Homo sapiens: one gene and its partner. The protein of the gene in region 2 purifies or fractionates together with the protein of the main gene of each other region. This does not show direct contact. Each region holds a gene or a part of one and is shown on either strand. Other genes may lie near its edges. The genes, in order: USP19 and FERD3L.

Region 1 (9,939 bases), on a different chromosome or scaffold from region 2:
AATCATGCCTCCATAGTGGTTGATGACAGCATATAGATCGTAGCTGGGCAGCTGCTCCTCTTTCTGACCAATGCAGAACTTGCTCAGGTCCAGGTTCCTGCAGGTCAGGTCCAGTCAGGGAGGGGTGAGACAGGCAACAGGCGCTCAGGATGCCCATCCTGGTCCTCACACCCCACCCACAGTTACCAAGGTCCACTGCTTACCTAACAGGGAACTCCACCAAGTCATTGATCTTGTCACGCCAGATAAAACTACGAAAGGAGAAGCGCTTGAGCTGCACGATGAGAACATTTGGCAGGCGCCATAGCAACAGCTGCTTGGAGGCCTCACGGTGCTGTTTGCACTGTGGGCAGTACCTGGTGGGGACAGAGATTGGGTCAGGACCAGCAAGTCTCTCTCTTCTCCATCCTGCCCCCTTATCTACTTGCTGCTCTGTTCTCACCAGGCCTCCTCGGGTGCCAGCACCTCAGGCCGTGTGAAGAGGTTGAGGCACTGGTCCAGGGTGAAGTGGCCGGCCCGGGCAGCCTCACCGGCAGAGCCTGGATCCTCAGCACATTCCAGCTCCTTGGAGGCTACCAACACAAACTCCTGCAAGCGCTCATTGTTCCGCCAGACGAGAGCCAGGCTACAGTCGTCACCCAGCTCCAGTGGGGTGTCTCCTGGAGATTCGCAGGGAGAGAGGTCATGCAGCTGTGGAGAACAGCCAGCTCAACCCACCCCATGGCTCCCACCCACAGCCTCAGACACCTTTGTCCTCTAGCCGCTGCTCTCGGTTGGATGAATCAATTTTATAGATGAAGAACTGGGGTGTGTGGGCATTCATAGCTTCACTTGGATGCTGGTACCCAGGCACAGCAGCTGTGTGAGAACATGATAATCAAAGCTTCCCTGCCCATCAGGGCCTCACCAGGCCCACCAGGCCCTAAACAACAGCCCCCTCCATCCTCCCTTATCCTCCTCCCCAGCTTCTAGAGCCTTTCACTGGATCTTACCTTCGGGTCGGGACACCCTCTCGCCAGCTGGCAAGGAGCCAACCTCAATGGGCCCACTGGCCAGCATCTCAGAAGAAATTCCACTGGTGCTGGGCACAGGACCCCGGTCAGGGGCTGCCCACACCCGGGGAAGCCCTGTGTCCCCCTCAGCCATAGGGGTCACCAGCTGGAGCTCAGGTGGCTGAATGGGGTCTCTCTCGCTGTCCCCAGCCTCCAGGGAACCTGTGGAGAGCAGTGTGGTGCAGCCAGGGCTCTGAGACTCCAAGGCCATGCGGCCTGGCTGAAAGGGTGGCTGGAATACACTCACAGAGTACCTGGCAACAGAGAACAACGCAAGTAAGACTCCTGACCAGCCCATCTAGCACCTCTGCCCCCACCTACACCACTCTAGTCCAACCACTGGGCACTTACCGGGCATAGCCCTCTAGCAACTGAGCGAGGCGGGCATAAGTGAGGCGTGAGGCAGGTACACTGACCAGGAAGGGGTAGCCAATGTTCTCAGGTCGGCAGAGGCCCTTGTGGTCAGGCCAGTGGGTTTTCTGGCAGAGCCTGACGGGAAGAGGAAGACAAGGATAGGCCCTTAGCCCCATCTCCTATGACTCCATACTGGGGGCTAGTCATAGTCCCTGGGAACTGGGTACGCCAGCCCTGCCTCCCCCAGAGCCTGGTAAAGTAGGGTGGCAAGTAGAAAGCTTAAGCATATGTGCCTTGGTGTGAAGGGAAGGAGCAGGGTGGCACATGGAAGGTGGAAAGAAAGGGTAGGGGAGACCATGGGGGTCCTCACTGGTTGCAGTAGCCCACACGGTAGCACCGGGTACAGCGCTTCAGCTTTTCATCCTCCGACTGTTGCTTCCGCTGGCAGGCTGCACACTTGGAGATGGGGACGCTGGGCACCTGGGGGCGCTAGGGTGGGTCGTCTGGCTCAGCAAGACCAGGAAGAAGTGCCCCACCCACCAGGGCGCTGTGCCATCAGGTTGGCCCCCACTCACCTGTTGCACCTCTAGCACCACTACCCGCTCCTTAGCCAACTCTGAGGATAGCAGCTCAAAGCAGAGGAGCGTATCAGATGGGGACACAGTGTCCAGTGAGTGGGAGGGTAGGAACACACGATGAAAACGATTCTTAATTACCTGGGGACAGAGAACACACAGATCCCACGTGAGGATAAGCCCTTTCCCTAGCCCTGCCCCAGAGTTTAAGAAGGCTTGGCCCTGCCTTGGGTCTATGTGGGCAGTGGTGAGGTCTGTAGGCCCAAATAGGCTTATGCCTCTGCTGGCACCTGTCTCAGTGCCCAATGCCATAAGGAGCCTGGTGCATCAGAGGGCCTGAAAGACCAGGTGTGAGGCAGATATCAACCACACCAGCTCTCCACACTGAGGGACTCTGCCCTGCTATAACTAGCATAGCCTTATAAGACTGTAACATATTATCATGGAGGGTCCACATTCAAAGAGCCTCCTCCCCACTCTTACCCCTAAGAAAACCAACACTGTCAGGCTAAAGGCTAGGAACCCCTGGGGAGAGCTAGCACACACAACTGGGATAAAAGGAGAGAGCAGCAGGATAGAGGGAGAGGCAGAGCGAACATAGGGATAGTCCTGCAGCTCAAGCTCCTTGTCTAAAAAGGGAAATGCAGTTGGGATCCACCACCACAAAGGGGAATAAACCCTGATAATGGCTAGGAACTGAGGGCACTTCTGTTGCACAGAAAAAATAACAGCACATCGCCTGTTTTTGTACAGTCACAGGCATACTCATGTGTATGTCTATTTTTATTTTATTTTATTTTATTTTTGAGACAGAGTCTCACTCTGTCACCCAGGCTGGAGTGCAGTGGCGCGATCTCGGCTCACTGCAACCTCTGCCTCCCAGGTTCAAGCGATTCTCCTGCCTCAGCCTCCTGAGCAGCTGGGACTACAGACATGTGCCACCACGCCCGGCTAACTTTTCCTGTATTTTTAGTAGAGGTGGGGTTTCACCATGTAAGCCAGGGTGGTCTGGATCTCCTGACCTTGTGATCCATCAGCCTTGGCCTCCCAAAGAGCTGGGATTACAGGCATGAGCCACCACGCCTGGCCCTATTTTTATTTTTTTATCTATTTATTTATTTATTTTTGAGACAGAGTCTCACTCTGTCACCCAGGCTGGAGTGCTGTGGTGCAATCTCTGCTCACTGCAACCTCCACATCCCGGGCTCAAGTGAGCCTCTTGCCTCAGCCTCCCAAGTAGCTGGGACTATAACACGTACCACCATGCCCAGCTAATTTTATTTCTTGTAGAGACAGTGTTTCACCAAGTTGCCCAGGCTGGTCCCAAACTCCTGGGCTCAAGTGATCTGCCCACCTCGGCCTCACAAAGTGCTGGGACTACAGGCATGAGCCACTGTGCCCAGCCCATGTGTATGTCTGTAGATGCCAATGACTGTACACACGTCTGTGGTGAGTACACACACACATCCACACATGTGATAGCCCAAGGAAGGACAAAGATACCTCCGCCAAACGCAGGTTCTCAGGCTTCACATGAACACTCTGAGAGAGGGAGTCCAATACTTCGCTCGCAGTGGAGTTCTCCTTGCTGACGCTCACCAGGAACTGTGGCAAAAAGGGCAGTCAGTGAGGGAGGTGGGCCACGTTCTCTAGAACAGCCCAGAGGGTAGGGGCTTACTCCTCACCTTGATGGGCTTGCTGTGGGGCTCTCGGGCAAAATAAAAGACAGGGAGAACCTTTTGCTTTTGTGGCAAGGGCACCGGCAGATAAAGAAACGGGTCAAAAGTGATGGAGACCTGTGGATGTAGAGGTGGCACTGGGTAGCTGCACACAGAGTGGGAGATAAGATGCTCATGCTCAGAGAGCCCATTCCGGGGCTTCTGATGGCTCTCAGGGCCCCCACAGCCAACCAGCAAACTCTCAGGCTTCAGGACACTAGACAGGGCAGGAGGACCACCAGGAAATAACAATCCTTCTTTCTGGCACTCAAAGCCCTACTCAGCTTAGCCACTTTACGAATTGGCCTCACACTTGCACCCCATGTGCCCACAACCCTGCTACAACACCTTTGAGCTCTAACATCACTTTTCCCTCAGTCAGGAAGCCTACCCTGAGTGGGCTCTTCAGCCCAAATAGAATCCTAAGGCCTCCCTGCCAGCTTCTTTGCCCAAACCTTGCCCTGTAGCACCTTAAGATGCACATGCCTCTGAACCTAATGTGACCAGAATAGCTGAGCTGAACTAGGGGGTCTCTTTCCAGGGGAGCCCATCACACCTTGGCACACACAGGGCACACCAGCTTCGACTTGTACTGCCCCTGAAATAGGTCCACGATGAAAGAGTCATTCCTCATCTTGTGCCGCTGCCATGCTTCCTCAGCTACCACCTGAGAGGCAGAGTGGTGAGAACCAAAGAGTACCAGGGGCTGGGATGCTCATGAGACATGCCCACCCTCTGTCCCTAACCCTGACCTCATCGGGCCGCCCATCTGAATCCACGGTCTCTGTGTAGGGCTTGTTCTGAATGCGATTCAGGTCCTCGTGCAGCCCATCCAGCAGGAAAGCCATGAACTCCTGGGCATCATGCTGTGCATAGCCTGTGAACTGGCTGGCCTTACTCGCCACAATGGCCTGGATACAGGAGCCAAGGTGTGAACATGAAGCCCTAGCACCCACTGCACACCCAGCTGGCTGGCCCTCCCCGCCCCCTCCAGCCAAGGGTGACAGTGGTCACAGATCACCTTCAACTTGGAAGGCTGGAAGGCATGGTGGGTGCCCTTCCACAGCGCCCGAAGCAGCACGGCAAAGCCAATGGCCAGACGCCCACCAGTCCCTAGTGGGTTGTTGTAGTTGATCTCAGCCTCAAAGGAGCGGTCTAGGAATAGTAGCCGAGCAAAGGTGTGAGGAACAAAGGCACTCTCTCTGCCCATAACCCAGGCTCCAGGCCCTGCCCTCACCATGGAAGAAGTCCCGGAGTTCCCGAGTGTTGGACAGAGACTGAATGACGCTGTTCATGAAGCAGGTGTTGCCTAAATTGACAAGGCCAGTGAAGCCTGGCAGACACACCTTCTTCTCTTCCTCTTCCTCCTCCTCCACGCTGTCTCCACTAACTGGGCTGTGGGGCATGGGAGGCACCATGCATGTAGGCTTGGGCTGCAGGAGCAAAGACGACATGAGAGAACAGCCCCAAGACTCTCCAGCCTCCATTCTTCGTCCTTCCCACCCCAGAATTCTCACCGAGGCCAGGTGTGTCTCTGGCTTTGGGGTTACATGCTCCATGGGTGTGCGGGTTGCCACACTGTCTAGCCCTGTGTCCTCAGATCGTGCCTTGGATTTATCCTTCTCCACAGCCCGGGCCTCCTCCTGGCCTGTCAGGGGGTGGGGAGCACCTCCTGGTGGGGTTGAATCCAGAGGGGTTGGACCTGTCGGCACGGCAACCTTTGCACCACCCACTGCACCTTAAAAAGGGGGAATGAGAGGGCTGGTGGTTAGCAGCATGTGACAGGGGTTTGGGTCCTGGTCACGTGGAACTGGGCAATGAAGGGAGCTCGTGTGCAGACCTCGTGCAGCCGGGGCCTCCAGGCCCCCCCAGCGCTGACTCTGCCTCTTACGAAGGCAGATGTCGATGCGAGAAGCCGTGAAACAGAAGGTGCACTGCTCTGGCTCAATCAGATTCCTGTGGGAAAAGGCTGAACTCAGGGACTTAGGAGGAATGAGCATCAGGATAGATGAGCCAGGGAGATGGAGCCCACGGGGTAGGACAGGCACAGTGGTGGGGCCGGGCACCACCCACCTGAGCTTCACCTGCCAACGGAAGGTGGTGTGGGGCCCACAGCCCGGGTGCAGCCTCAGGAAGTTTCCATCCCTGCAGAGGCACAGCAGGATAGGAGGAAGGACAAGAGGAAGAGCATGAGACATACTGTCCCACCTGAGGCATTGTTTGCCCCATCATCTACCCACCCACCTGGTCTGGAAGATGAGCGTGAAGTCCTGCTCACGGAAAAGTACTCTTGAGGTGTCCCTGCAGATCTCCTTCACGTACACGTGCACCACCACTGAATCCGGGCCCTTCTCATACGAGTCATTCTTGACAAACGCCAGGTTCACCATCGACTCGGGCTCTATATTGAGACCATGGCTCAGCCCCAACCAGGACAGGTTCCAGCCTATTGCTACTCTCTATCCACCTACAAACTTTGCAACCCAACCTAGGGCTCTGCCTGCCCACCCCCACCTTTACCATCCACCAAGGTTGCAGCATCTGCTGCCACTGCCATCTCCTCCTTGGCACAGTCATCTTTCCCAGGGTTTCTGCTCCGGACCATGGCTGGAGAGACTGGGTCATTCCCGGGAGGCACTGCTTTCTCTCCTGCCAAAGGGGCTAAATTCTCCTCTGAGCCCAGGAGGCAGGTTTGGGAGTTCAGCGGTGGTATGCAAAGCTGTTCATCAGCCTCAACCTATTAATGGCAAGATTGTGGAAAGAATCAGCCCTGGGTCTGCCAGGTGGCTCCCACTCCAGTGCACACCCTTTCCCCCCATCTCCTAACACCCAAACAGGTGCCCAGCTCTCACCTGGGTGGCTGGGTCAGCCACGAAGGGTGGGGCATCACCCCGGGGTCCAGGGTCATCCCTGGACCCGTCCCCCTCTGGCCCTCTGCAGAGATGCACAGCCCTCTTGGCGCTGGGCCCTGCCTGGGCCCCGGGGCCAGCCCCTGCGCCTACCTCACCACGGCCCTGGGCCCGCTTCTGGTTCCGGGCCTCCTGCTTAGCCCGGTGGGGCTCAGGGCCTGGCTCCAGGGCAATGGGAGACAGTTCCTGCCCATTCTCCTGGCACCGCAGCCCCGGCACCAGCTCCTGGGTCCCTAGAGGTTTCTTCTGCCAAAGATACAGCAGTCAGGCCCTGTCGACTACACTGGTATCCCTACCCAACCCTGTACTACTAGAACTCACCAGGAGGGAGGGCCACGTGAGCATAGGCACCTTTTTGGGCAGTGTCAGGTGCAGGAGACTGCCCTTGCGGGTTTGCACTTTAGCACAAGAGCTTTTTATCTCAGCATAGAAGACACCACCCCACTGCTGACCACCTGGGGACAGAGCAGGGTCCATGAGGTAGGATAGGAGATATCAGAAGATTCAAACATACTACTGTGCTCAGGGCAGATGGACACACCTGCAAACCGCACCACACAGTCTGTATCTGTGAAAGCAGCATCTACATCCTCCAGCTGCAGGGGACCTACTCCCACACGAAGCTTGACAATCACCTCTTCTGCACTCTGCCTCCAATCGAGCAACAACTCTGGAGTGGGAGTAGCCAAGAGATCATGAGGGTCTTCACAAGCTCCTGATGGTGATAAGCAGGTAACAGAGACCCAGCCTAATGAAACTGCTTCAGATGGGAGCCAAATTGCAAGTGCCCCCTCCCCTTCCCTAGCAACAAAAAGCCCATTCGTTACTGACCCTCTTTGGTCTGCTCCTCTTGAGGAGTGGATGCTGACCCTGACGATGAAGGAAAGAACAGCCGGGTACGGTGGCGTGAGCCTGTGATCCCAGCTGCATGGGAGGCTGAGGCAGAAGGATCACCTGAGGCCAGAGGTTCAAGACCAGCCTGGGCAACATATCGAGACCCTGTCTCTAAAAAAAAAATAAGAAAAATTAGTCAAGCATGGTGAGGAGGCTGAGGTAGGAGGACTGCTTGAGCCCAGGACTTTGAGGATGCAGTAAGCTACGATCACACCTGCACTGCACTCCAATCTGTGCAAGAGTGAGACCCTGCCTTTAAAAAAAAAAAAAAAAAAGGGACAGGCACGGTGGTTCACGCCTGCAATCCCAGCACTTTGAGAGGCCGAGGTGGGTGGATCACCTGAGGTCAGGAGTTTGTGACCAGTCTGGCCAACATGGTGAAACCCCGTCTCTACTAAAAATACAAAAATTAGCTGAGTGTGGTGGTGCATACCTGTAATCCCAGCTACTTGGGAGGCTGAGGCTACTTGGGAGGCTGAGGCAGCAGAATCACTTGAACCCGGGAGGCAGAGCCCGCAGTGAGCCAAGACGCCACTACACTCTAGCCTGGATGACAGAGTGAGACATTGTCTCAAAAAAAAAAAAAAAATTAGCCTTGCGTGGTGGCATGCACCTGTAATCCCAGCTACTTGGGAGGCTGAGGCAGGACAATCACCTGAACCAGGAGGTGGACGTTGCAGTGAGCCAATATTGCACCACTGCACTCCAGCCTGGGCTACAGAATGAGACTCCATCTCAAAAAAAAAAGGAAAAAAAGAACAGGTTCAAAAAAAAGAAAAAAGTTTAAAAAGGAAAGAAGGCAAGCCCCCCAACAGCACCATCTTCTGGATCTTAGCCAAGTACTCAGGCTTCAAAGCTGAGGCTCTACTGAGGTTATCATGGGTCCTTCTTCTCTCATCATCAAACCAGGACAGAGAGAAGAACAAGAAAGTCATCTCCCAAACCCCAATCTGTATACCAATAAGATGGGAGGCAGAGAAGGCCACAATTACTCTGGGAATGCCACTCCCACCTTTCCTAGGATCTCCATCCTTGCTCTCCTGGTTTGCTCGATCCTTCTGCTTCTTCTTACTAGTGGTGTCCTCCAGTCCTGGGGGCCCTCTCCTTGGGCCTGTGGCACTGGCCCCGCCAGACATCTTGAGCCGCTTGGTCGACAGCCAGAGTGCCCCGGGGTCGGCAACAGCGTCTGGGTCAGGGCTGCGGCGCTTTCTTCCTGGCCCAGCTATCTTGGCAACTCTTTGTGGCCAAATTCTCCAGCAAGGAACGGACAGCCTAATGGAAAGAAGCCAGTGATCACTGCCAAGACCCAACAACTTGCTCTTTAGCTACACCCAGGGCTCAGCAACACAGGACACTAATGCTACAGAGCTGTATCTTCTCATCTCTTAAGTACCCCTGGACACTCTCAGGATATTCTGAAGAGGTAATAAATAATGCAAGTAGCAGCAACCACTTCTGGCCAAGCCTCATAGATACCCACCATAACAGTCCCACACAGGTGAAAGCCTCACTGAGGGGGCACCAGGTCAAGGAAGTCATGGCCTGGGACCAGGCTACTCCACCAATCTGGAGAGGAGCCACGGCTCCAGCCCACAGGGCTGGCACTCCGAGCAGGGTGCTCACTTTTCCTTCACTCTCACTGGCTGCTTAGTCACCACTGGAGAAATAGAAGGTGGAGGAGGAAGGCAGGACAGGAGACAAGCCGCAGGAGAACCAGGCTCTGTGGCTGTAAACAGGCTCAACCCAGGTTCTACCATTGCCCAGAAAAAGTCCTGGGGCTAAGGCACTCCACCTGCCTCCTGCCAGCTCCCACCCTTGGCAAGAACCTGCTCCTATGTACTGCTTGGTCCTTCTTCATTTCAAGAGAAAGTCCTCTCCCCAGCTGCTGTCCCAAGCAGAAAGGGACTGAAAAGTGTATCTAGATGTCACGCTACCTCTTCAGCAGCAACCCTGCTCCAGTACTAAGGCAGGATGGGCATCCAGTTTGAGACTGGAACAGAAATTATCACCTTCCTTCCCAGATGCCTTCACTCATGAGCTCTGAGCCACAAGGACCACTACAGTTTCCCACAGACCCACCAGTGGATTCTGGACTGTTTCCTCCTCCAAAATGAAGGTCTTGAAACTAGATACTGAGATGAGGCTGGGGAGGACCACAGATCCAGGACTCCTGGCAGCCTCAAGCCTGGCCTGAACCAGTAGCAGGACAGATAATGACTAGTCTGTGTTCCCCTAAGTGTGTAAAGGAGGAAGGAGGGATGGCAGGATACCCTTCTACAGGTCAGATGTGGTACTGGTGGGCTGGATCTTTAATGACACCTGCCACCGGCGCCTCCTTCTTGCACCCAGGCCCCAGCCGAAGGTCGCGTCCCTCCCCCATGCCCCAGGGACGTCGAGGCGGGTAAGGGGCTGTTTAGAGACCCGAGCCGGCCTGAAA
Region 2 (9,981 bases):
ATGTAAAAGAATGAAGCTGGACCCTTACCTAACACCATATACAAAAACTAAGTTGAAACGGATCAAGGACCTAAACATAAGAACATAAGGCCTAAAACTAAAATCTCTTAGAAAAAAAGAAAAAGATTTACAACATAGGATTTGGCAGTGATTTCTTAGATATGATACCAAAGGCCCAAGCAAAAAGAAAATATAGACAAATTGGACTTCATGAAAATGTAAAACTTTTGCGCATCAAAAGACACCATTAATAGAGTAAAAAGACAACTTATAGAGTGAGAAAAGTATTTGCAAATCATGTATCTGATAAAAGATTGATATCCAGGATATATAGAGAACATTTTCACTTACATATACATAAAGAAACAATTATTATTTTTCTCAGAATACTTTTCAGATGTATACAAGGTTTCAAAATGTATAACACATAGAATGAGTCATAGAAAATTTTTATCCAGTAAAGTTCTTGGAAAAAAAAGACACAACCCAATTCAAAAATGAGTGGAAGACCTGAAGAGACATTTCTCAAAAAAAAGATATACAAATAGCCAACAGGCATATAAAAAGATCCTCAACATCACTAATCATTAGGGAAAAGCAAATCAAAGCTGTAATAGGATACAAACTCACACCCATAAAGGTGGCTACTATCTAAACAAACAAACATAAAACAAGTGTTGGTGAGGATATGGAGTAACGGGAGCCTTTGCACAGTGTTGGTGGGAATGTAAAATGGTAGAGCCACTGTGAAAAACAGTTCAGTGGTTCCTCAAAAAATTAAAACTAGACAGCAGCACAAATGAGCCTGAAGGACATTATGTTAAATGAAATAAATCAGGCACAGAAAAATACCACATGGTCTTATTCACATGTAGGTGCCAAAAATGTGGAGCTCATGAAGCAGATAATGGAATTGTGGGTTTTCAGAGTCTTGGAAGGGTAGTGGGAAGGGAGGATAGAAAGAGGTTGGTTAAAGAATACAAAATTATTTTTAAAATTAAAAACAGAGTTACCAAATTATTAGCAATTCCACTTCTGGGGACACATCCAAAAAAATTGAAAGCAGGGTCTCAAAATGATTTGTAGATATCCATGTTTATAGCAGCATTATTCACAATAACTAAAATCTGGAAGCAACCCAAGTGTCCATCATCAGAGGAATGGATAAACAAAGTGTGGCATATACATACAGTGGAATATCATTCAACCCTAAAAAGAAAGGAAATTCTAATGTGTGTTAAAATATAGATGGCTCTTTAGGACATTATGCTAAGTGAAATAAGCCAGTCACAAAAAGACAAATACTGTATAATTCCACTTGTATGAGCTACCCAGAGTAGTCAAATTTAAAGAGACGGAAAGTAGAATGGTGGTTGCCAGGGGCTGAGGAAAGGAGAGAACGAGGAGTTACTTTTTTAATGAATATGGAGTTTTCATTTTATAAAATTAAAAGAGTTCTTGAGATGGATGATGGTGATGCACAATATGATGAATGTATTTAATACCACCGAACTGTACACTTACAAATAGGTAAAGTGATAAATTTTATGTTATATGTATTTTACCGCCATAAAAATTGGAAAAAATATAAATGAATTTTTTCTTTTTTTTGAGACGGAGTCTCACTCTCACCTAGACTGGTGTGCAGTGGTGTGATCTCGGCTCACTGCAAGCTCCGCCTCCCAGGTTCACGCCATTCTCCTGCCTCAGCCTCACGAGTAGCTGGGACTACAGGCGCCCGCTACCATGCCAGGCTAATTTTTTTGTATTTTTAGTAGAGACGGAGTTTCACCGTGTTAGCCAGGATGGTCTCGATCCCTGACCTCGTGATCCGCCCGCCTCGGCCTCCCAAAGTGCTCGGTTTACAGGCGTGAGCCACCGCGCCCGGCCTGAAATTTTTAAATATACCATAAAGAGAGTCAAAAGGAAAGCCACAGAGTTGGGAGAAGATATTTACATTACATACGTCTGACATGGAACTTATACCCAGAATATTCGTACAAATCAATTTTTTAAATTAGAAAAATCCAATAAACAGTGGAGCAGTACTTTATTAAAGAGTCAGTAACTAATCGGCTAACAAGAAATGGTGCTCAATTTTACTTATCATCAGGGAAATGTAAATTAAAACTGAAATGTGATACCCATACACATCTTTAAAACAGCTTAAATTAAAAAGATAGAAAATGGCAAGTATTGGCGAGGATGTGAAGAAATTGGAACTCCAATATATCATTTGTGACAGTGTAAATTATTACAACCATTTTGGAAAACAATTTTATAGTAACCACTAAAACTGAACATATGCATAATCTATTCCAATTCCAGGTGTATCCCAAACAGGAAAGGATAAATGTACTCACAAAAAGATATGTACAATAACCTCTATGACACTGCTATTTGTAGTAACTAAAAATTGGAAACTATCCAAATGTCCACCAACAAGAAAAGGAAAGAACAAATAAATAGTGGTATATTTACACAGTGAAATATTATTCAACAATGAGAATATGCACAAATTGCATAAATAAAATATTGACTGAAAGACACAATAGTATACAGAATATAATTTATTTTTATAGATTATGCATATGCTCACTTTGTGAAACAGTCTCAAGCTATAAACTTAACTGTTCTTACATTACCTCAAACTTCAAAAAGGCATTCCATTTCTTGATTTGGGCACTGGTTTCATGGATACATTCACTTTGAAAATTCATGAAGCTGCATGTATATAATTTGCGAATTTTAAAGTACATACACTGAGCTTCAAAAAAGTTTACCTAAAATATGAAATGAAAAAAGCAAAATAAATGGATATATATTCTTCTATCTCTAAAACCAGCCGTGGTCACAACCATACATAATTTGAAATTGAATAGGAAGAAGACACTGGTCCCTTCTCCAGGTCAGCGGAAGGAGTACTTCTTATGCCTTTCTCCTACAATCATCACAGACATCTAGCTTCGTCATATCTTTATCATTTGCCCTAAAAGTTAATGTTTCTGGAATAAAAGAGGAAGGGACATGAGGAAGGAAAGGTAGGGTTTTTTTAATTGGGGGGATTTATATATTTGCTTTACTCCCTGGATGCTTTATTTATCTACCTTTCTCCCCTTTGCACCATTAAACCCAGGCTTCAGCTCATTCAAGAATTACTGCTTAAGTTATTCTTGGTCATTTTTTTTTCTTTTTGCTTTGATTCTGAACAGTTTAATAGTATAAACAAAATGTTTTATGTCTAATAGGAATGGTCAATAGAAATAAACTAGATAATCAAATAAGCAAAACTGATTGTCATTTCATAATCATTTCTTGAAATATTTTGAGTAAAATTTGTGAGGAGTTATCAAACTTTTTATAAATGCCTCCCTATAGGTCACTGAATAACTGTAAACTATAGGCCTAGAACACAGAGGAATCAAGGTTGAACTTAGCTTCTTTTAATCCTCAATTGAGTTTTTAAAAAACATCTCTCTCTTAACTTTCAAATCTAGAAATGAAAATAATGATTCCTTCCAATAGGATGAACTGTAACATCACTTGGTACTTTATAAATTTACTGCTTTTGCCATATATATTTACTGTGGAACCAAATACCCACAAAAGTCTTCTAAAAATAAAATGACCATTTCACAATAAGCAGAGAAAAAGAATTTCAGTTATTCCTATAATTAATTATAATTATAAATGAAATAACTGTAACTGTTAATTTATATAACTAATTATAATTATAAATAAAAACACTCATAACTTAGATTTTAACATTTTTTGCTTTAATTATATTAGCATGATTATAACCTTGTAAGATAAACAGAAATTAAGGTGGTATAAACAGAAGTGTTTATCCTGGGATTTTTATGATGAAATAAAAAAGAAAATATTTTAAAATAATTGCTGTAGGTGTACCTATTAGGACATTTAAAAAATTCCTAATACTTTAATACAAGTATTTCAACCCAGTTCTAGGCACTGGTTCCATTACTTTTGCTACAGTTCCTTTTGTGATATGATTATTGAAATCTCCATTCTCTGCCAGCTGCAGTGGCTCAGGCCAGTAATCTCAGCACTTTGGGAGGTCAAGGTGAGAGGACTGGTTGAGGCCTGAGCAAAATAGTTAGACCTCCTCTCTAAAGAACAAAACCTTTAGCTTGATGAGGTGGCCAGTGCCTGCAGTCCTAGGTACTCGGGAGGCTGAGGCAGGAGAGTTGCTTGGGCCCAGGAGTTTGAGGCACAGTAAGCTATGATTGTAGCACTGCGCTCCAGCCTCGATGACTGAGTGAGGCTCTGTTGAAAGAGAGAAGGAGGAAAGAAAAAGAAAGAAAGAAAGAAAGAGAGAAAGAAGAAAGAAAGAAAGAAAGAGAAAGAAAGAAGAAAGAAAGAAAAAGAAAGAAAGAAAGAAAGAAAGAAAGAAAGAAAGAAAGAAAGAAAGAAAGAAAGAAAGAAAGAAAGAAAAAGGAGTAAGGGGGAGGGAGGGAGAGAGGAAGGAAGGAAAGAAAGAAGGAAGGAAGGAAGGAAGGAAGGCAAGCAAGAAAGGTACATTGCCTTGGCTAAAATCATAAAGGAGTTCAGTCCAATGAAACTATCTCTTTAGTCTCATGAAGGCTTCTGACCCCCATTTTATGAAATTTTAAATTTAAATATCAACCATGTTTTCCTTCATTGTTTTCCAGTGTATTATATTGCGAAACTAGATTCTCAATTGACTGAGGTGTTTAATCCACTTGCAAATAGATTGTAAATGAATACAAAATAAGTCACTGAGAAGCATTTAACATAATTTAAAAATCAACAAGAAATTTGTCCAAATATTTAATAACATATTAATTTAAACGAGGGTTAGCAAGCATGTTACTACTTTTTTGAAACAAAAATCAGTTCTCCCATTTACTAGCTTCATAGCCACTGTTGACAATCCTATTATTTATTTTTCAGCCTTCCCTTTGAAAGATGCTTAGCAAAAATCAACTAAGTAACAACCAAAGATCTCATTCTCTTTAACATCTTCCAGGATCACAAATTTCAATTATTCTCTGCCTGAGTTATCACAATTCAAACTGGAGAATGAAGAGTAAACACAAGCAAAAGAAGATAAAATCTATTAAAAGATCGAGAGACACCAGACACAAATGGGTTAAAAGAAGAAGAAGAATTAAAGGTTATACTGTTTTGATTACACACATAGAGGCTAGGAAGAAGAAAATGAATTGAGATTACCTGTTAGAAATAGGCGGTTTCTGGTTTCTGGGAGCTGTCCAATGTACTGAGTGAACCATCATAACCACAACTTACCCCCTTAATAGGGACTGACGTCCTGGGCAGTTCTCTTTTGAACCGGGATGTTTCTACATTCATCTTTTTAGGCTATTTCTTCCAATCTACCTTTAAAATTATCTTCTAATCTGTCACTTTGACACAATGGGTCTTTTAAATAAATCTTTACACAGTACTGAATAATTAAGTAAATATAGTTATTGGCAAACAAAGAAAAAGAACCTTTTTGTTAAAATATTTGGGATACTCGAGATAATATAAAATGAGTAATCTCTTATTTTTCTTATGCCAAATTTAAAATCTCTTTCTTTTCTCAAAAATAACGATCTAACGATAGCCAAAAACTCCCTTAAATATATTTCAATAAATCATTGTTTCTGCACTTAAGTCTTACTGTAGGACAATACAAATCAATGAGGAAAATACGCCAGATGGAAGTGTTAGGTTTTTTTCTTTGTTCGGGAACAAATACTCGATCCGCAATTTAAAAGTCCGAAGACTCCTCAGCAGAGGGTGAGCTGATTGACTCTTTGGCTTATCAAGGGCAAATCGCATTTCTGAAAAGAGCTTGAAGTGGTTTTGTTTGTGAGGAGAGTTTGCTTTGTCCCCCACACTGAAAAGTATACAGCAAAGCCCGAGCATAGAAAATATCCTGAGCTTAAATTTCTCATTTTATTGCCATCATAACTTTTCCTCTTGGAATAAAATCCTCTATTTTATATGAGTAGGAGGTAAAGGTAGGGAAAGGAAAGTCAAGTATCTCAATTGTTACGCTGATTGCATCCAAACAGACTTTAGAAGTCAGGGTTTGTAACGTGGCAGGAGAGCTGTTTGCGATGCCCTGGAAAGAAAAGAAAGCCGGTTCCAACAGCGACTCTGGGGAATGCACTCTCGGTCCCCCTGCCATGCTTACTTAAGCTAATTGAAGGTCTTGCCTTTCAGCAGCCGCTGCACTGGGATACCAGACAAACAGCTCCCCTTGATGCCAGGCAGGCAGGGCCCCTCTTCAGGACATCATTAAAAGCACATGCACTTGCTCCACATCCATTGGCAGATGGTGGCAAGATTCAAGACTCCTACCCTGAAGTCAAGGAGAAGCCATCGCGGTGGAAAACATCCTCGCTTTGAAAATCCAACACGAAATTAAAGAACTACACGAGATAAGGAGCCTGGAGAACATTAGTTGGCTGCAGGGGTGAAGACAGACACAAAAAGCACAGCAGGTAAGAGCTGGGGGTTGTTGCCAACAAGGAACTGTCCCGGGTGGCGCAGAGAAAAGGATCTCAGAACTGGAGCCCTGTCCCTTTGAGTCTTCCATGCGTGCTCAAGCTTGTCATCTTCCATAAGCTTCGAGAGAAGGGACGTTGTCAGAGCATTCCTTATCGGTGCGACTAATCCTGTTATCAGCTTGGTTATAAATATTTAATGTTCCCTGGCCTTTCGGTGATGGTGCCCCATCAGATTCAAGGCTGTTAAGAATCCCCACCAGCAACCTCGCCCCTCCCTGCGGAAAACCGATGAGAGGCAGGGCCAAGCCGAAGCGATGGCGGCCTATCCGGAGAGCTGCGTGGACACTACGGTGCTGGACTTCGTCGCAGACCTGTCCCTGGCCTCCCCGAGACGCCCTCTCCTCTGCGACTTCGCACCCGGGGTCTCCTTGGGGGACCCAGCCCTTGCGCTCCGAGAGGGAAGACCCAGGAGGATGGCGCGGTTTGAAGAGGGGGACCCAGAAGAAGAGGAGTGCGAAGTGGACCAGGGGGACGGAGAAGAGGAGGAGGAAGAGGAGCGCGGAAGAGGTGTCTCCCTATTAGGCCGCCCCAAGAGGAAAAGGGTGATCACCTACGCCCAGCGCCAGGCCGCCAACATCCGCGAAAGGAAGCGGATGTTCAACCTCAACGAGGCCTTTGACCAGCTGCGGAGGAAGGTGCCCACGTTTGCTTACGAGAAAAGGCTGTCCCGGATCGAGACCCTCCGCCTGGCCATCGTCTATATCTCCTTCATGACCGAGCTCTTGGAGAGCTGTGAGAAGAAGGAAAGCGGCTGAGCCTGGTGTGGAGAGTCTGCCCTTCCTCGTCTGGTAGTGCTGGGGTGTGTCAGGACCGGGCACTGGGTGAGGCTAAAGGGCCGGGAGGGAGGCCCCAAGACAGAACGTCTGGTCTTCTGGAGGTCGGGGTCGAGATTGTAAGATCCCCACATGCGCTGAGCAGAGTGGCTGCTGTAGAGTTCATATCTACGCGACCGCCCTAAGTGAAGTCGGGGTCAGGGGCGAGCGGGGAAGTCAGAGAGCGTGAGGCTGAGTCGGGGCCGTTCAGGCTGCTCCTAAGAGCTTCCGTGGGCTGGGTGGGTGGGAAGTGAACCCTCCTCGCAAATGGCAGACTTTGGAGCTTCTATAAAATCTAACCTCTCTTCTTTACATTTTTTTTTTCATAGAGATAATAAAGTAGAAATTCTTACGTTTTTAAAAAGCCTGAAGGGTCGGTGGTACGCCATCCCCAGCAGGCGCTCCAGCGGGCGCCTGCGTGGAGGGTCTGAAGCAGACGCCGCAAGGGTGCGGGGGTGCGAGCTTTTCTGCTAGCCAGAGGGTTCTGCCTGGTCCTCCGAGGCTTGTCCAGGAACTGAGGAAAGGAAAAATGGAAGGCAGAGCAGTCGAGAGGAACTGCTGACAAAGTGCGACCTCTGAGAAGGGACACCCTTCCTGTCTTCCATTCCCTCTCCCTCCCGTCCCTTCCTCTCTCCCGCGCGCAAGCCCTCTCTCTTCCTTTCTCCCTCCCCTTCGCCACCTAGTTGATCCCAGACGGACCACAGCTCCTTGTCCCAGGGCCACAGTGGTGTTCATTCAGTGCCTTAGCCAGAGTGCAAATCTACGCTTTGCATCTAAAGTGCAGCATCAGCTTCCGTGTTCCAGTGCCTTCTTCAGGCCCCAGGCCAGAGTAAGGGGCGAGTGCACTCGGGTCACTCCTGGGCCGCAGGGGGCCTTGGGCGCCCTGCAGCTTCGCCACCAGCCACCGCTACCAACTGTCCCCGGCCAGGGGTTGGGGTATGAAGGGGCCTGGATCTTTCTAGGAGCAGGGCCGCCTGAGCGCGCTCACTTTTACATTTTTAGCTGTAGGTAGGAAAGATAGCTTTCACTCTAATGGCTTCTAGAGACTACCAGGGGAGACAAAAAGTCCAAAGAGGAGATGCCTTCTGACGCCTTGCAAAACGCCTGCCATGCAGATGAGGTTGAAGCGGGTCCATGCTGAGAGGCCGCCTCTAGTTTGGACCCGTGCCATTCCAGGATTCTTCCTTCTAGGTGACGTGCTAGTACCAGAACTGGGGTCTTTCAGAAAGGAGTGGGTAACTGAGGCGAGGAACCCGATTGAATAATGCCAACCTAAACATAAATTCAGTAATCCTAAAGGATAATCCCCAGTGATTATTCCAACACTTTATTTCGCCCCTCATTGCACACAGAAATAGGCGGGAGCCTGTGCGAACACACAATTCTCTTAATCATGCTTTCGGAAATAGAATTCATTTCATTAATAAGTAACATATACTCATCCTAGAAATTTTGGAAAAAAAAATTTCAAAAAAGAGAAAATTCGAATCACTCCACGTTACCATACTGTTAGCATTTTCATCTATTTCTTTCCAGTCTTTTTTTCCCTGTGCAGTTATAAATTCAATATATTTTACTAATTCGAGATACTTTGGGATACTGATATTTTTCCACTTGGCATTATAGAAGGTGCAATGTTTTCCCTTAACTTTAATATTATTCAAATGTGATTTTGATTACCATATCTTATTGTCTTATCCATGTATCACACCACCACCAGCCCTTTCCAGATAGATAGCTATTTCCTTTTTAAAAAATAAATGATGCTGCTAAGAGCATTCTTGTAAATGCCTTCTCTGTCTATTATTACTTCCTAACATTTGATACCTAGAAGTGAAATTTCTGGATTCAAGTTTGTGGATATAAATGGCCAGATTCCCTTCTTGGTGGGTTCTGCCAGTTCACTCTCCCACCCTCTAGCATTGCAGGGATTTGCCTGTTTCCCAGCCCCTTCATTAGTACTTCGAATATTTAAAACTTTTCTTAGTTTTCCTTTTCATAGGACCTGGATTAGTTCTGAAACGAGCCCCCACTCCCAAGATGTTTTTTTACTTTTACTGTGTCTTTCCACCAAGAATTTTTTCAACTGCACCGTAAGAACATCAGGATAAACAGGTAAACAAAAAAAAAATACATAAACAGCTAACACCAAACAACAACAAAGCCCCATAGAGTGTTGTTTTTTCTTATTCTTCCACCAATTCAATTTCTCCTGGAAATTAAACATCATTCTTTTTTAAAAAATCATCTGAAAGTGTTGAATAAATAAAAAGAAAAAAAAGTAATTCCAATCTAGGAATTCTTAATATTTTGCTGAAAGAACAAGTTTTGAAAACCAGAAATAAAGCAAAATTGTGTAGACCAGGGACCATCAACATTCCTAAGTCGTGAGGAGTCAGCACAGCCACCCGTTTTCGTTAGTCTTCTCCATCATATTCTAATACATTTTGTTCCTAGAAAGCAAATAATATTCCTCCAGTGAATACCTCTTCATCATAGTAAATGATACCTAAAAAACTTCTAAATTAAAAGTTATTTTCTTATTATCAACAGAGGAATTATCCACCCTTCTTAAAAAAAAAAACTTTAATCGTTTATAAATGCTT

What was found.
Region 1: the proteins of FERD3L (region 2) and USP19 purify together in Homo sapiens (affinity purification with mass spectrometry; 2 studies listed by BioGRID and IntAct, with this or other methods). This does not show direct contact.

What each region holds. Positions count from the first base shown.
Region 1 is NC_000003.12:49,110,508-49,120,446, forward strand, and holds part of USP19 (ubiquitin carboxyl-terminal hydrolase 19), read right to left. Parts: intron 8,775-9,939; 5' UTR 8,639-8,774; coding exon 8,515-8,638; intron 7,614-8,514; coding exon 7,440-7,613; intron 7,324-7,439; coding exon 7,150-7,323; intron 7,064-7,149; coding exon 6,930-7,063; intron 6,855-6,929; coding exon 6,552-6,854; intron 6,437-6,551; coding exon 6,220-6,436; coding exon of another isoform or gene 6,214-6,219; intron 6,101-6,213; coding exon 5,944-6,100; intron 5,845-5,943; coding exon 5,773-5,844; intron 5,656-5,772; coding exon 5,540-5,655; intron 5,438-5,539; coding exon 5,217-5,437; intron 5,133-5,216; coding exon 4,937-5,132; intron 4,855-4,936; coding exon 4,721-4,854; intron 4,611-4,720; coding exon 4,452-4,610; intron 4,367-4,451; coding exon 4,256-4,366; intron 3,778-4,255; coding exon 3,667-3,777; intron 3,587-3,666; coding exon 3,485-3,586; intron 2,123-3,484; coding exon 1,982-2,122; intron 1,896-1,981; coding exon 1,777-1,895; intron 1,542-1,776; coding exon 1,404-1,541; and 10 more. UniProt on the Homo sapiens protein: Deubiquitinating enzyme that regulates the degradation of various proteins by removing ubiquitin moieties, thereby preventing their proteasomal degradation. Stabilizes RNF123, which promotes CDKN1B degradation and contributes to cell proliferation.
Region 2 is NC_000007.14:19,142,199-19,152,179, reverse strand, and holds FERD3L (fer3-like protein), read left to right. Parts: upstream 1-6,758; 5' UTR 6,759-6,817; coding exon 6,818-7,318; 3' UTR 7,319-7,398; downstream 7,399-9,981. UniProt on the Homo sapiens protein: Transcription factor that binds to the E-box and functions as inhibitor of transcription. DNA binding requires dimerization with an E protein. Inhibits transcription activation by ASCL1/MASH1 by sequestering E proteins.